Linked DNA regions of Homo sapiens. The protein of the gene in region 2 interacts with the protein of the main gene of each other region in a pairwise test. Each region holds a gene or a part of one and is shown on either strand. Other genes may lie near its edges.

Region 1 (7,000 bases), on a different chromosome or scaffold from region 2:
TCCTTGCGAAGGGTGCGAGGAGACCTTTCAGGGACTCTCCTGCATCCCGTCCTCTGTTTCCAGTTCTGCCAACTGCCTTCGAAGGATATTGACTTTTGCTTGTAATTCTTTATTATATTCAATGATGTTAACCATTTCTTCATATGCTTCATCCAAATACTTAGAGGATCTATTCCAACGTAGGAAAATACCTATTGAATCCAGGAATGGAAAACAGAAGCAAGAAAGGTATATACAATGGATTAAAATTACATTTGTGGATAAGATGTAATTTATGTATTATACATTCTTTTTTCTTTTGTTGCCACAACTCACATCTGTATTTTATTATACTCTAAAATATACAGGAATCTTGAGGTACTGAAAAGGATGCAATTGAATACAATATTTGAGAAGTCACTACTTGTATGTACATGCTCATTGATTCTTCAGAAATATCCCACAAAATTATCAAATAGATCCAAATACCATTTTATGATATATTCAGGAAAACAAGATGATAATTTGCAATGTCATAAACTTTCCAATTTCACAATATAAATCACTTATTTTTATAATTATAGAATATTGCTCAGACATGTAAGATCCCTTAAATGTGTGAAGCCATTTTCACCTGAAAAGTGACAACTACAGTAAAAGCAGAACCACATATGTTGTTATTTGAAAGCCTGAACTGTAGCCCACGTGCTTACATGCCTCTCTCCCTGTTACTTGAGAGGCAATCTTTCAATTCTGCAGGCAATTTCTTCTTTCCCCAAATAATAATAATTATCCTTTTATTATGAACCAAAAGGAAATATTTTCTCCTCTCCATAGCCCTATGTTAACTGTATCACACCACAATAATGCCTTACAGTTACTCAAGTCAGGAGGCACGAAAATCTTCCAGGCTGCACCATGTCAGTGGATGGCAAGTTCACAAAGGTTTTATGATTCATTAAAACACTCTCTACAAACCAAACTGCCATGGGTCCTAATGAGCCCTTCTATGCAGCTCCCAACATCAGGCTGTATCAGAAAGGGAAAGCAGAACCACAGCGTAAAGCCTGACCCACCCATGTTGATTTTTCTAATTCAGGAATTTCTAAATATTAATGGTTAGCTGTGATGTAAATGTAAACAGCAGAGAGATATTTTAAGGCCGAAGAGCAGTCTTATTCAATATAGATGCCTACCATAGGATTTTACCTAATAGAGAGCTTCTTCTTCTCCCAGCTCTAGGTTGAGGAGCATGAAACACACACTGAAACTCCGGCATGGCAGGACTTAATCCACAGAACAAGGATTTCATCCCATCACTTATCTCTAAGCTCCACAAGGAGGTTTGGTACAAAGCAATTAAATCATCCTTCAGGCCACCCAGCTCCCAATGTGGGTTTTCTCCCAAACAGCTACGCTCATTTCAGTTATTAAATGTGACAGTGGCTTTAAGTACATTGTCCCAGAAGTCCTAAACAGGAAGAATACTGTAACCTCTCGTTTAAGAGATCATGAACCCTGTACTGACTGTGACGACAATCACGAAAGTAAGCAAAGAGAAGTTCTGAGCAGTCACCATCCCTTCACAAATCAAAGCACTAAAGCTCACACCCAGAACCTCAAGACCATCTAAGACCATTTCCCCACAATGCTAACTAGGGGACACTTCAATAGATAAGATTAGAAGCATGAACTGAGGTGGAAGGAAGCCACTAATGGCAGATAAGCCAAGAGGAACTAGATGTGACAGCTGACATCCAGAGAAGAGACAGAAACTGATTTGGTCTCAGACTCAGAAGCCAAAGCAATCTGAGACCCGTTTCCACAAAGGGCAAATAGTTTTCCACACGTGAACTGCCTTTGAGAGTATAACATACTAGAATACGGCGTAACAACTGGCATTAACGGTAATTCGGTTTAATTTAACAAACAGCTACCATTCTTGTATGTATACTTTATGCTATTAAACATAAACATGAATAAATGTGTGCTTATTATCTTCAAAATAACTTTAAAAATTAAATGGTATTTTAGAGGCTTTGTTTAATGAAACACTATATAGTTCAGATAGATTTTGGTTATTTTTATCTTTATTTTTATCTTTTTGAGAAAGTCTCGTTGTGTCACCCTGGCTAAAGTGCAGTAGCATCATCTCTGCTCACTGCAACCTTTGCCTCCCAGATTCAAGTGATTCTCCTGCCTCAGCCTCCTGAGTAGCTGGGGCTACAGACCCGCACCACCAAATTGGCCTGTTTAATTTTTGTATTTTCAGTAGAGATGGGGTTTCACCATGTTGGCCAGCCTGGTCTTGAACTTCTGACCTCAAGTGATCCACTCACCTGAGCCTCCCAATGTGCTGGGATTACAGGCGTGAGCCACCACACCTGGCCAGATTTTGGTTATGTTTTAATTAATAAGCTTCCATACTTAAGGGGATAAGCTTCAATAGTTGGAAAAATCAGTGCATATAAAAAATCTACTTTAGAATAGATTTAAAAATTAAGCATATAGTCCCATAAGAACAATGAAATATCTGTGTTACTGCACTGATGGTATTTTGTGCCCATTTATAGAAACTTACTGGAATGCCCAGCCATGTAACTCTTTAATACCATTTAATACAAGAACCTATCCTAATGACTGCTTCATTAAGGGACAGAAACTCTCCCTGATGAGCTTACAATTTATTCATGTCCCAACTACTTACCAACTCTCTTAGGCAAAGAGTAAGGTACTTTCTTATCTAGAAAAATATCCAACATAAACAGCAATGTAAAGAAACACTGTTAATTTCTCAATGGTAACTGAAAAAAAAAAAAAGTGTGGCTAGATAACTGATTTGAAAGAGAAAAACATGCCCACACTGAGAATGACAATTCACACAGGTCTGAGGGCCACGTCCAGCTCACCATCTTCATACATCACCAACAGCACACACTCACAGGCAGCCGCATGCACACCTGACCGTTAAGAAGTTTGCAAAGGATGCGTGGTTTACCTTCCCACAGTGGAAGACTCTGCGGAGCAACTGAAGGCCAGATGACAAGGTTGTTGGCTTCAAAGAGGGGATTGGTGAATTTACTCAGCTCACTGGGCTGATTAACCCAGGACCACAAAGACATCGTCTTCTGCTGTAGCTTCAACTTACATCTGATCAAGAAAGAACACTGCCATTAAAGTAATTAATTTATAACAACCATTATTGAGTGCTCCTCTTACGAGGACAATTTCTTCTCAGTATGAAAGAAGATAGAATACAAGACTTTTGGTAGAGAAACAAAGTGTTGAAAAATCAATAGATTTGTCAAAAAGCTCAATCGGCATTAGAACTCTCAACAACAACAAAACAAAGAGTATTTTACAGGCTTCCAAGAAGCTGGCAGGAGGATAAAAACAGAATCTGGTCACATCAGGTTTGGTGTTAAACCTTAACCCAGAGAACATTACTGTACACAAAAGTCCTTTGTTATATTTGGGATTCTATTTTAATTAAAAATAGCTAAGCATAAAAAAACTTTCTAACCTTTTTGTTTCTGAGAAGCCTATAATATAAACATAAAAATTATACACTTTTTGACATTTATGTCCTATTTATTTTTCTAGTTTCTTTAAGAAAGGGCTTGTTGTGCAGAAACAACCAGGATAGCTTACAAATATGAATGTCTGGAAAGACCCCCAGGGTCTTCATTATTTACATTGTTTGATAACCACTTTCTAATTGTTTTTTTTTTTAATTTTTTATTTTAATTTTTCCATAAGTTATTGGGGAACAGGTGGTATTTGGTTACATGAGTAAGTTCTGTAGTGGCGATTTGTGAGATTCTGGTGCACCCATCATCCGAGCAGTATACAATGAACCCTAATTGTAGTCTTTTATCCCTCGTCCCCCTTCTGTCCCTCCCCCAAGTCCCCAAAGTCCACTGTATCCTTCTTACGCCCATACTAATATTAAAAGTGGAGGTTGAGTCAAATCTCAAACAAAACTTAAAATTTTTTAGAGACTTAGCTTTTAGGGAAAATAACTTACATGTACATAAAATACAGATTGTCAAAGATGAAAAATCAATGTGAATCTTGACATAAATACATATTTAATCTATATCCACATACAATGAACAGGCTTCATAATAATTCTAAAACTCTGGAACACTCTTTATCATGTGAATAAACTGTTAGAGAAGGATAACAGTCGATCGGCATGTTTTAGAAAAAAATACATTTTAACACAGATTGAAAGACAGTCTGTGGTAAACCTTACATCAACCAAAAAGATAATACATTCAATTCTCATAAGACTCAGTTTAAGCTGAGATTTTATTATAAAATCAGTTTTGTCTCTGAAACCACATGATTATTTATGAGCTACGTGCAACTTACTGCATTCTTTTTGAGCTAGCAATAAAAATAATCCACATAATCATAGAGCCTATGTGGCATTGGACTTTAACTGCTGGGATAGCATGTCCCACGCTATGTTCCCAGGAACCAGGGATGACAAGGACAGGACATTATTGCATCCACTGCCTCCAGCCCTGTGCCCCCTGCCCATGGCCGGCCAACCACTGAACTTGCTCTGGCTGAGCCTGACACCACTTCAGAATCCTTCCCATCAGCATTGCTGGCAGCCTCTACCAACTGGGAAACAGAATGGGAATCTATTTTGATCCCTTCTTGAAAGCTAGTCCTGAGGATATTAACAGGTATAACACCAAAAAAAATTCATCATCAAACACATTTCTTAAATGCTGAATTAAACTTATATACATTGCTTTACTGAAGAGTGTCTTAAAGCCTTTAATGATTATGCGTTAATCATTAAATCCTCCCTTCTAAGTGGGGGAGTTAATCCTCCCCTCTAAGTGGGGAGGATATTATGTCATATTCACCAAACTTCCTTGGCTATAGAAATTGCCAATCCCTCCTGTCCCTCCCTGCCAGAGTACAGTCCAGGGCTAAGCAACACATGCTTCAGAAAATGGTGGCTGCCAGCAATGAGGCAAGGAAGGCTGCTGATTGTACCCTGAAGAGATTACCAGGCAACCTCCCTGAAAGATCATTCTGATGTGAATCTTGTAAATGAACCTATACACTTGATGGTGCCTGGGCTGTAAGGTGAGCTTGCCACTCTGGGCCTGAGGACAGTTTCTAGGTGTAACAAAGTCTGGAGCAGGAGGAGGAAGACCTGTAATTTAGGCCAGGGATCCCCAAACCCCAGGCCATGGACCAGTAAGGGTCCGTGGCCTGTTAGGAACTGGCCACACAGCAGGAGGTGAGTGGCAGATGAGCGCGTATTTCCACCTCCTGTCAGATCAGCATCAGATTCTCAGAGAAGCGCAAACCCTACTGTGAGCTGCGCATGTGGGGAATCTAGGGTGCGCCTTTATGAGAATTCTCCTTATGAGAATCTAATGCCTGATGATCTGACATGGAACAGTTTCACCCCAAAACCATCACCAATCCCGCTGCCACCCAATCCAAAGAAAAGTTGTTATCCACAAAACTGGTCCCTGGTGCCAAAATGGTTGGGGATCGCTGCTCTAGGCCACACTTTTGATGACCAACTGACTCTATGTCCTGGGAAAAGTCACGTAACTTCTCTGGATCTTACTTTCTTAATAAAATTAGAGGGAAGACCTGAATTATAAATTAAGGCTTTTTCCACATGTAAGATACTATGATCCTATGTTAAGAAATTAACATTTAAAATGGTTGCCCCTTAATTCACGTATGGACTAATTTTAACCTAACAGAACAAAGTCTAGGACATGCTCTCATAAAAGAATATACTTCAGGTCATTTAAATTATAATTAACTGTAGCCTCTACCTTTTTATAAATAATTTTAATATAGATCCAAATCGTCGTCTCCTAGGAGATTCTGGCTACTTAGGAAGTAGCCAAAACAACGGAAAAGGAAAGGTCCCCATGTGAGCAGTGTACTCACCTTTCACTTTCATTGTTGCCCAGAAATGTTCCAAACTGTGAGGCATAAGCATGCTCAAAGAGCATGATGAGGAAATTCTCATTAAACTCAAAAGAACAGGGAAACTGACGAAGGATCTGCCACACGCAGTCCAAGAAGAGAAGAAATACAGGAGCCTCCCACTTCTGCTTGGTGTTACAGTAGGCTGACTGTGCACAGCGCTGCTGGAATGGGTGACCAGCCTAGGGGGAAGATGGAGGCGTGACAGTCATATCCTGGTGAGATCACATGACAGAGCATTCTACCGACACCACTATACACAATTACAGTGACACTCCTAGTACCTGGAACATCATATAATTAGGGTAGCTGTTGTACAGATTAATGATTTCTTGGTATAAAATAAATAGCGGCAGCAACTAAGGAAAAAGACACACTTCCAAATCCTTAATGAGGCTGCGCGGCTAAGGTGTGACCACAGGAACTGCACTGCCCTTGGAATATCCCATGGAAGAATAATGAACTTAAGCAATAATAAACTTACAAAATAAACCTTTCTAGGTCTACAAAACCTGGAGCAAAGTCAAAGAACATAAGCTCTCAGTACAAAGAAGAATCATCACCTCTGTCTAACACTGTAGATTGTGCTGTACACTAAACAAGCCTCACCCTAAGTGGAGACAGATATGGAACTCTGATCACCTTTATAATGTCAGCTCTGATAGTAAATCTCTAATTATATACGAAAAGTTATTGTGTTGAAAGATCTTTATGAGTACTTTTCTACAGGAGATAAAGCTGTCATTAATTACCCTCTTCTCCCAAAATGAACAGCAAGAGTCTGCCATCTACTGACCAAAGTAAATTTAAGACTCATTTGACTGTCTTGTTCAGAACCCAAATGCTGACCTTAATACAAATCATACTCTGCTAGGAATTTCACAGATCTGCTTTGTCTCTGGGTCCTTCTACTACTGTATGTGACAAAGGTAATGACATAGAAATTTTACAGTGGTTCACAGAATTGTGATATCCATTAAAATAACATAAAAATCAGTCAGTCATACTCATTTGTTTGTCTACTATGCATCATGAGGAA
Region 2 (8,955 bases):
CCCTTAGGTGACCCAGCGGTGTTGGTTTTAGGAGGAAGAGGCAGGGATGGGGCAGAGGAAGCGGGAGAGAGGCCGGGTCCCCGTCTCTCCTGTCTTTAAGTGGTAGAAGTGTCCTGACTGCCAGAGGCTGCCTGCACTCCCTGGCTCCTGGCCCCTTCCATCCTCAGTCTTCCAGTCTCTCCGACCTCTGACCTCTGACCCTGCCTCCTCCCTCTGCCTGGATGCTCTTTCCCAGGGTCTGTGGCCTCGCTGTGTTCCCTCCAGGCCTTGACTCAGAACTCACCTTCTCCCGAGGCTTTCCCAGAGCAGCCCTGTGTCCAGCCTGCCCCGTGCTCTTCTCAGGCCCCCTGGCCAGCTTGAGCTGTGGGCTGTCCCCGCTGGCCCAGGGCCTTTGCTCTGCTGCCGACGCGTCCCAGAACCTCACCCAGCACATGGAGGCGCTGGGTGGGTGTGGTGGGCTGGCCAGGTGTGGTCAGCGTCCTTTCCGCAGGTGTCCTCAGCGTGGCGGTGCTTGGTGAAATGGCTTTTGTGTTCTGTGTTGCACTGTTATGAAGCATAGTGAGGAAATTCACACCCTTGCTTCACCCACCTCTTGCCCCAGTCATGTAAGAGGAGCCCCGTTACTAGCTCCTGCCCAGGAGGAAGGGCTGGATGGGGACCAGTTCATGTCCTGCTGTGAGCGCCCCGCACCCTGGAGGAAGGTCAGGTGCTCAGGTCCGCTTACGGAGCAGAGACCCCTCTGCTGTTTCTGAGTCAGGCACCCCTGCCCCAGCATCCCAGAGTCGGGGTCGCGTGGACATGAGCGATGGTCACCTGGCCGTTCTCTCCCCCATAGAGGAGGAGCTCCGGAAGCTGCGAGAAGAAACCAACGCGGAGATGCTGCGGCAGGAGCTGGACCGCGAGCGGCAGCGGCGGATGGAGCTGGAGCAGAAGGTGCAGGAGGTGCTGAAGGCCAGGTACCGCGCCTTCCTCGGGGCCCTGGCCTGTGTGCGGCTGCCCCAACCCCCCACCCCACCCGCCCCGCCGTCCTCTGCTGCACCCATAGCGTCTTGGCAGCATCATTCTTGGCCCTGGAGAGGCCTGAGTGTGAGGGTGGGCCCGGCTCTGACTGCCCAGGTATAGGTCCTGCCTGTGCCTGCATGAGCTGTGGTCTTGGGAATGTGTCATCTTCCTGTGCCTCTGGCGGTCTGGAAAAGGGTGCACAGGTGCTCCTGCCAGCCCCCAGGCCTGGGGCCAGGCCAACTGAAGAGAGGCTTGGCATGGGGCCTGCAGAGCCCCAGAGCCACCTCATGGCTCTGATCCCGGCCTGCTGGTGACCCCATTCTGTACATCCACCCAGTGCCCCACCCCGGGGGCCAGCCCGGCCTCTTAGGATCTTCCCAGGACCTGCCTTCCCAGTGCTGCCTGTGCGTGTTCCCATGCCCCCTGTCTGCCCCAGCCACGCTGTGGCCCCCGCCCCCCTGCCCCCATCCTAGCAGTATCATGTCCTGGGCGCCAGTGCCGCCCTGGCTCCTAGAGAGGCATGTCTGCACCTGACATCTTTGCTCTTGTTTGTGGGTCCCATGTGGGACCCTGAGTGCTCACAGTCTCCTCCCTCACCCTGCCCTGCGCCTCACAGTGCCGCCAGCAGGAAGCAGGTCATTCAGGACCCCAGCGCAAGTTACAAAGCCAGTGCCCTCCTGTCTCGCTAACACCACGAGGCTCCGTGTCCCTCTGCACAAGTTCAAACTGGTGCCTGGTACATGAGGCCAGGGAGCTCAGGCCACTCACCTCTGGCTCCCAGGCCTCCCGCTCAGCCTCCACTCCAGCAACCTCCTGCTTCGGCCTCCCTCTCAGCCTCCACTCCAGCAGCCTCCTGCTTCGGCCTCCCTCTCAGCCTCCACTCCCTCAGCCTCCCCCCTCAGTCTCCACCCTCAGTTTCTGCCCAGCCTCCCCCCAGCATCATCTTCAGCCTCCGTCCTCAGACTCCACTCCCTCAGCCTCCCCACTCAGGTTCCACTCAGCCTCCCTCCAGCCTCCACTTAGCCTCCCTCCAGGTCTCCCACCTCAGCCTCCCACCACCATTGGCCACACCTTTGTCTGTGGCCCCCATGACCTGCATGGATGGCTGTCACCAGTTAGGGAGGCACACGGCATCTCTGGGACACCCCAGCTGAGCACTGCCTGCTATGAGCGCTCCGGGGGCCGTGTGTCATTGTCAGGACTCCAAGTGTCGCTGCTTAGCTGGCCCTGAGGAAGCGGCTCCCTTCAGCACCCTCAGGTTTAGTGTGTGGGAAGACGGGGGATCCGCTGGGCTGACTCCCACTTCTTCCTTGCCCGCCTCCTGCAGGTCAGCATGACCTTGTGGAGTGCCCTGGGGGGCTCATGTGGGGGCTCATGTGGGGGCATCCAGCTGGTGTGGGGGAGGGAGAGGCCTCACTTTCCTATTCCGCCCTGGCAGAACCTCCCAGACCAGAAATGGGTGCATGGGCCTCGGCAGGCGCTTTACCTGATGCTGAACCTTCTGGGAAAATCCACAGAAGCTCAAAGCTTAAATTACATTTAATTATGTAGAGTTGCAACAGAGACCTGACCTGCCACGCTGGGAGATCCCAGGGACAGGTGCGGTCCCCAGGCATTTGGCCACAGTGCCATCCCCGCCACGGGACGCTGCTTCTCCCCCGGTGGCTAAGGTGGCCTGAGGCTGTCCCCGTGGCCCTGCTCCCTGTGTTCTGTTTCCCATCCTCTCACTCCCGCCAGCCCCACTCCAGGATCTGGTCCTCATCTTTTACCAAAGCCCCTTGGTGGCAGGTGTGCCCAGCCCGGGTCAGCTGTAAGAACGCAGGGAGCCCCATCTCGCACAGTCTCTGCCTTGGGAATGGGTGGGGAATGGGCAGTGAAGGAACATCCAGGCTGTGACCCAGGAAGTGGAAGCTGAAGGTCCTGGGAGCATTAAGGGCTCTCCCCTGCTTTACATGGGGGCGGCGCTTAGGAACCTTCTGGAAGCCTGAAGGAGGAGGGGTGAAGGAAGAGCAGTCCCAGGCAGAGTGACCTCCTCTTTCCTTGTCGTCCTGGTGCAGATCTGGGGTGGGTCTGGGTGGCTGTGGTCTGTCCAGGGTGGGTAGGTGTGTGAGGGCACACACAAACATGCAGACACATGTGCGCACACACTGCACACACACATACCACACACTCTGAAGCTGCAGGATTAAAGCACAGCAGTTCTGTTTATGCAAACCTCTATTTTGGTTTTTAAGAAAATTCTCAGAAAGTCACCTTGGTTTAAGGCTACTTGTCAGTAGGCAGAGATTCTCTCCATTGTGGATCCAAAGTCCCCTGAAAACCTCACTGTCTGCTTCCTGCCCGCTGCTTACCTGGCCGTGCCCTGTGTGCCCTGTGCTCCGCCCTCTGTTCTCTTCTCAGGGTTTACTCCTCCCCCAGCTTCCTCCCTCCCCACTCCCGCTTCCCAAGAGTTAGGAAGGTTAGGGGCGACCACACAGCACTTGGCCCGGTTCTGTGCTGCACCTGCTCACAGGCCTTGGCTGGAGGGGCTGGGTGTGGGACGGAAGCAGACCCTAGTGGCCGTCTAGTGCCCCTGCCCAGTCCAGGCAGGTCGCTGGAGTAGGCTGAGCTGGGAGCTGGGTACAGGCTGCTGACAGGTGGCACCCAGCCTGTGGCCTGGCTTGGTGCCTGATAAACACATGTGTGTTGATCAGTATCTTTTCATTAGCAGACGGGTTGGTGATATGAGAGTATTCTGAGTTTAATGATGTTGAAAGAAGCAAGTGTGCTAAAATGAATAGGAAAGGAAAGAGTGGTGAAAGATGCTGGTTGTTTAAAAACAAAACGTGTGCCTGTTAGGAAGGCAGCTCTGTGCTTGCCTGGATACGCTCGGAACCAGCATTTCAGCAGTGGAGACTCTGGAGAGAGCCCTGCTGTCCCTGACCTCTCCTGTGCAGTACACGGTCGCGAGAGCCCTCGGGGGTGCCTGACTGGGCATGGAGTTTGGAACTAACAGACCTCTTGTCTCTTCTCTCCCTGCTTTTTAAGAACCGAGGAGCAGATGGCTCAGCAGCCCCCAAAAGGGCAGGCCCAGGCCAGCAATGGAGCAGGTACACCCTGGTGGGCGGGTGGACAGGCAGGCGGGCGGGTGGGTGGCTGCGCGTCACCTGCTGGTTCTGTAGGCCCAGGTTAACAATGGAGCAGATACCCCCTCCCCCAGCAGGTGGGCAGGCGGCAGGTGCTGGTTCTGTGCCCAGGCACCTGCTGGCATCCGGGAATCTCCTCCCGTCAGAACTGGGTTAGTGTCTCTGATGCGAAGTGGTGAGTCATCATAGTCGTCATCACAAATTTCCAGTCACTCAACTAAAGCGTGATTGTGTGTTCTTTGGGGAATACACACGTACTCTGTTTCAGCCTTGCCCCACGGAACAGTGATGTGAGAGCCACGCTGGTCACTGCCGCTGCCCTGGTGCCTCCCCGAAGGGGACCAAGTGGGCAGTGGGGCTATGGTTGGCTGTGAGTGGGGAGTTGGGGGTTCATGTGCCCTTTTATCTCTCTCCTCGTCCTCCATCCCTGAGTGCCTGTTCTTTATCTTGCCCCACGCCCTGCAGGCAGCCGGCATAGTTCCCTGTACCTGGGGGTCAGCAAACTCCAGCCCCCGCCTGGCTTCACAGATTTAAATGGTTTCATTTCATGACATGAGAACGTAATATAAACCTGAAATTTCAGTCCATAAATAAAGTCCATGGGAACACAGCCGGGCCGGTTCACTTACGGCTGGGACGAGTGTGCCGATCTCACCTGGACCCTCCCCTTAAAAACTCTGCCAGGCTGCCTTGGGGGCGGGAAGAAGCCGCAGGAGCCTGCCCTGGCCCCATCCTCCCTGCCCGGGTGGCCTTGGGGTACACAGACCTCAGCCCCCTTGGCCTGTGGCTCTTGAGCCTCTGCCCTGAGCCTGCAGCCCCCTGGGTATGGTGACCACAGGCCCTCTGGTCCCAGGGCCCAAAACTTTGGCGAGGCAGCACCCGCTGCAGGCGGCTCCTCACTGGCCTTCTGAAGGGAGGGACTGGCTTGCACCCCTGAGCCCCCCTTCCGAGGGATTCTTCCGGTTTCCCGCCGTGGAGGCTGCTTTCCAGAGGTGTTCGCTTTTGGTAAACATTGCTGGTCATCAGCACGACAACACCGTGCGCTCACCCTGGGCTGGCTGCGCTCGCCAGGCACCCCCAGCCCAGGACACAGCCTCCCGCTGCGCCATCCATTGGCTGATGCTCAGGATATGCAGGGCTGGGGCAGTGACCTCTCCATCTGCTTTCTGACAACCCGGAGGTAGAAAGGGGGTTTGATGCAGACGTCTGAGGTGGGCCGAGCAGCCTGGATGGACAGGCTGCCCGCTGACGAGAGCCCAGGGCGGGCAGAGAGCTGGGGACAGGGATGAAAAGCAGAGAGACCCGGCACTGAGGTCGTCATGGCTGGGGCAGCTCTGCTGTGTGCCGGTTGGTTTGCACTTGGTGTCTTCAGAGGACTGAGCCCTTCAAAGTCCCTTGTACAGGGACCCTTCATTTCCCTGACCTACCCCCGAGCATTCCTTGTGCCTCTGCTGGCCGCGCCCTTGCAGTGAGGCCCCTCCCTGCCCTGAGATCCCGGAGCCGACCCCAGAACAGGCAGTGCAGCCCTGCCGTGCCCTCACCGGGTCCCTGCCCCCTGCAGAGCGCCGGAGCCAGGGGCTGTCCTCGCGCCTGCAGAAGTGGTTCTACGAGCGGTTTGGGGAGTACGTGGAGGACTTCCGGTTCCAGCCCGAGGAGAACACTGTGGAGACAGAGGAACCCCTGAGCGCCCGCAGGTAGGGGTTCGCCGAGCTGGGGCTGCCTGTGCGTTAGGGGCCCCGGTCCCTGGGCTGAGGCTGCAGCGGGTGGGCCATCCTTTATCACCGTGGGCCAAAGCTGTCTGTGAGGCTGCCGAGAGCTCCTGGAGGCTCCGCTGTGTCTGGTCTTCTGGGGGCCGTGCCTGGCAGGGGCTTGCGAGGCCCGCTTAGGTGCAGCAGAGCTGCATGCGCGCACTGCTCTCAGCTGTGGCTTGTGACAGTTGTGTGGGGACTCATGGGGCTCAGCCCACTGCCTGGGGCCTTCCTTGGCTCTTGAGTCCCATCAGTAAACCTTGGTTCCCCTGCCAGGTGCTGCCATAGGCCCTGGGGGTCCCGAGGGAGCTAGGTCAGCAAAGGCCCTGCCCTTGAGGACTTCTGTTCTGGGGACACAGGCAGGAGATGAGGGGACGATTTCATTGGCGAGTCGCCCCTGCCTTCCTAACTTGGGGAGTGGCACTGAGGGCCATCCCGGCGCACCCTGCTGTGCTGAGCCGCCGTGCATGGCCATTCTGTGCACTCAAGGGGTCCCAGGCTGTTGAGACGTCCTCCCTGGCCCCTGCAGAGCCAACGGAACCGGGCAGTGGGGACTGCAGAGCCGGCGGGTGCATTAACCCTGGGCTCCCATCTCTCCCCTTCTCTCTTAGGTTAACTGAAAATATGAGACGGCTCAGTGAGTACCAGCGGCTCTGCGTGGCGCCCACGATGCTCAGTGTGGGTGGGGCCCATGGCGGTGGGGACTCTGGGATTCTGAGCTGAACCGACTCTCCAGGGAGACGTGGTTAAGCGGCCTCCTACCCACAGTGCTGACCACTGTGGTCTGCTCTGTCCCCAGAGCGCGGTGCCAAGCCGGTCACTAACTTTGTGAAGAACCTCTCTGCCTTATCCGACTGGTACTCCGTCTACACGTCTGCCATTGCCTTCACCGTGAGTGGGTCCTCCAGGGGCCGAGCAGGGTGGGTGGGATGTGCCTGCCAGCATTCACCACATGATCAGGCACCTTCCCAGGGTGGGAGGTGGCCCCCAGGTGGCACTTCCTCAGGCCCCAGGGACATGCTCATTTCTCCTTCTGTAAAGTGGGCTCACTGATGCCAGTGCCCAGCCATGGGGTGGCTTCAAGGATCAAAGATGTTGGGCGTGGCCCGGGGCTAGCCTGCAGGGCTCCCTGGACAGGGATGTGGTGCAGCCTTGTCCCCCAGGGTGCCCTTGGGAAAGGCCTCTTGGCACTCACCGTGCAGTGCGGTGGCCACGCTGCTGAGGTCCACAGAGTACCTGGTGCTGGGGCCAGGAGTACCTCCAAGGGCATGGCAGCACGAGGGGCCCAGCCCAGCCCCTGTGAGCCATGAGTCCTGAGGGATTGGAGGGTGCCAGGGCCCACATTGCCAGGGCCTTGGGGAAAAGGTGCCCAGCCGTCCTGCCTGGAACTGCCCTGCAGCGGCTGCCCCAGCGGGACAGGAGACTTGCCACCTGTGTCTCAGTACTTGGTCCTCGGGGGGAGCCCCCTCACCCAGGATGGAGACTGTGCCTCCAGCACGAGGAAGATGCAGGCAGCCCACCTGCTTGCTAGGGCCTCCAGGCCAGAGAGGAGGCGTCCACAGCCTGGCACTGTCCAGGGCTCCCAAAGGCAGCACTGCCCTGCTGAGCGGGCCCCTTGGGAGAGGTCCCCAGATGACCTCAGCCTGGGTCAGGCTCTCCAGGAAAGTCCCTGAAGCCTGTGGCCCTGTGCCTGCTGCGGGCACTTACCACTCACCTGGGACATGGGCACTTTGTTCACTCACAGATGAAGGCTGGGTGCTGGGACCACCGGCTTCACCCTGGCCCTGGAAGGCCTCTTCTCCTGCCACCCTCACAAATGCTTTGCGACAGGAGGCCTTTGCTGCCTGGGCTCCCACACGCTCCTGTGCCATGTCTGTTGTCACTAAGAGATGAGCCCAAGCTTTGAACCTGCCTTCCAGGCCTCACCTCCATCCCCTGCCCTGTGCACATCTGCTCTGCGTCCCGGGCTCTGTGCTGGGCACAGATGGTGCCTGGCATGAAGGTGGCCCCGGGCATGCACCTGGCTCGCCCTCAGCAGTGCTTGCCTGCCTCGCCCAGCCAGGCTGAGTCCTGGTGATGCCCCAAGTCTGGTGCGTGGGAGCCACACCGGGGCAGGCAGGACCCGCATGTGGAACCAGCCGCCCTCTTCTGTCCCCAGGACACGCTTCTCCCTAGGTGTCTCCTGGCTTCCACCGGCGGCTCTTAAACCGGGGAAGCAGCCCTTCCTCCGGCTTCCCCATCAGACGCACCCTCATCCCTGAGTGTCTGGAGAGCCAGCGGGTGGCCTGGTCTCCCCACTGGGGCCGCCTGGTGGGGGGAGGCGGGAGGGATGTGCCTTGTCCTGATCCAAGCTGTCAGGAGGTCTGACGCCCTGTCTCTCACCCGCAGGTGTACATGAATGCCGTGTGGCATGGCTGGGCCATCCCATTGTTCTTATTTCTAGCAATTCTGAGGTTATCCCTCAATTACCTCATCGCCAGGTAGGTGAGCCGGTTTGTTGCAGCTGCTTTATCCCACCGCATGTATGGCTGTGCTGTCTCCCTGCGTCTCACAACCGTGACCCCAGCTGGGTATGTCATGCACTGACGTTTTGGGGGTGGTCCCCTGACAGGCTCCAGAGACCCCCCAGGCAGGGCGGCTGCCCCCTCCCTGGTTTGCTAGAGATGGCAGTGGGAAGTTCCCAAATCCCCCAGCAGCTCCTTCCCCGGGCGGCCAGCAGAGCCAGGGCCGTTCCAGCACCTGCCCGAACATCGCAGGGGGCTTCTCCCCAACATCAGTGGGTAGGTGGGTGAAGCAAACAGGGCTCCACGCCCCGGAAGGTTCCTGCTGGCTGCCTGTTGGAGATGAGCCTGCTGGGGAGGAGCTGGACCGGGAATGAGTACCAGTCGCCTGCAGACAGCACGCCCGTGTGACTGACGCGTTAACCCCAACCCTGGCCTGAGTCAGGGCTCTCGTGTCACCCCTTATGCCCCCTCTGAGCACCCCCTCCCTGTGGAGGCTGAGGGGGGCTCTGGGAAGCCCATGCCCTGGGGTGGACCCCTAGTCCCTGCACTCCTGGGTCCTTCTTAGCCTGCGGTTAC

The links. The genes of interacting proteins can lie anywhere in the genome.
Region 1: the proteins of GRAMD4 (region 2) and MTMR9 interact in binary tests that used the Homo sapiens proteins (3 or more experiments, as listed by UniProt).

The regions. Positions count from the first base shown.
Region 1 is NC_000008.11:11,315,816-11,322,815, reverse strand, and holds part of MTMR9 (myotubularin-related protein 9), read right to left. Parts: intron 6,958-7,000; exon of another isoform or gene 6,144-6,957; coding exon 5,923-6,143; exon of another isoform or gene 3,130-5,922; coding exon 2,978-3,129; exon of another isoform or gene 1,216-2,977; intron 192-1,215; coding exon 28-191; 3' UTR 1-27. UniProt on the Homo sapiens protein: Acts as an adapter for myotubularin-related phosphatases. Increases lipid phosphatase MTMR6 catalytic activity, specifically towards phosphatidylinositol 3,5-bisphosphate and MTMR6 binding affinity for phosphorylated phosphatidylinositols.
Region 2 is NC_000022.11:46,657,352-46,666,306, forward strand, and holds part of GRAMD4 (GRAM domain-containing protein 4), read left to right. Parts: intron 1-835; coding exon 836-956; intron 957-4,029; coding exon 4,030-4,091; intron 4,092-5,688; coding exon 5,689-5,821; intron 5,822-6,486; coding exon 6,487-6,512; intron 6,513-6,674; coding exon 6,675-6,766; intron 6,767-8,263; coding exon 8,264-8,355; intron 8,356-8,955. UniProt on the Homo sapiens protein: Plays a role as a mediator of E2F1-induced apoptosis in the absence of p53/TP53. Plays a role as a mediator of E2F1-induced apoptosis in the absence of p53/TP53. Inhibits TLR9 response to nucelic acids and regulates TLR9-mediated innate immune response.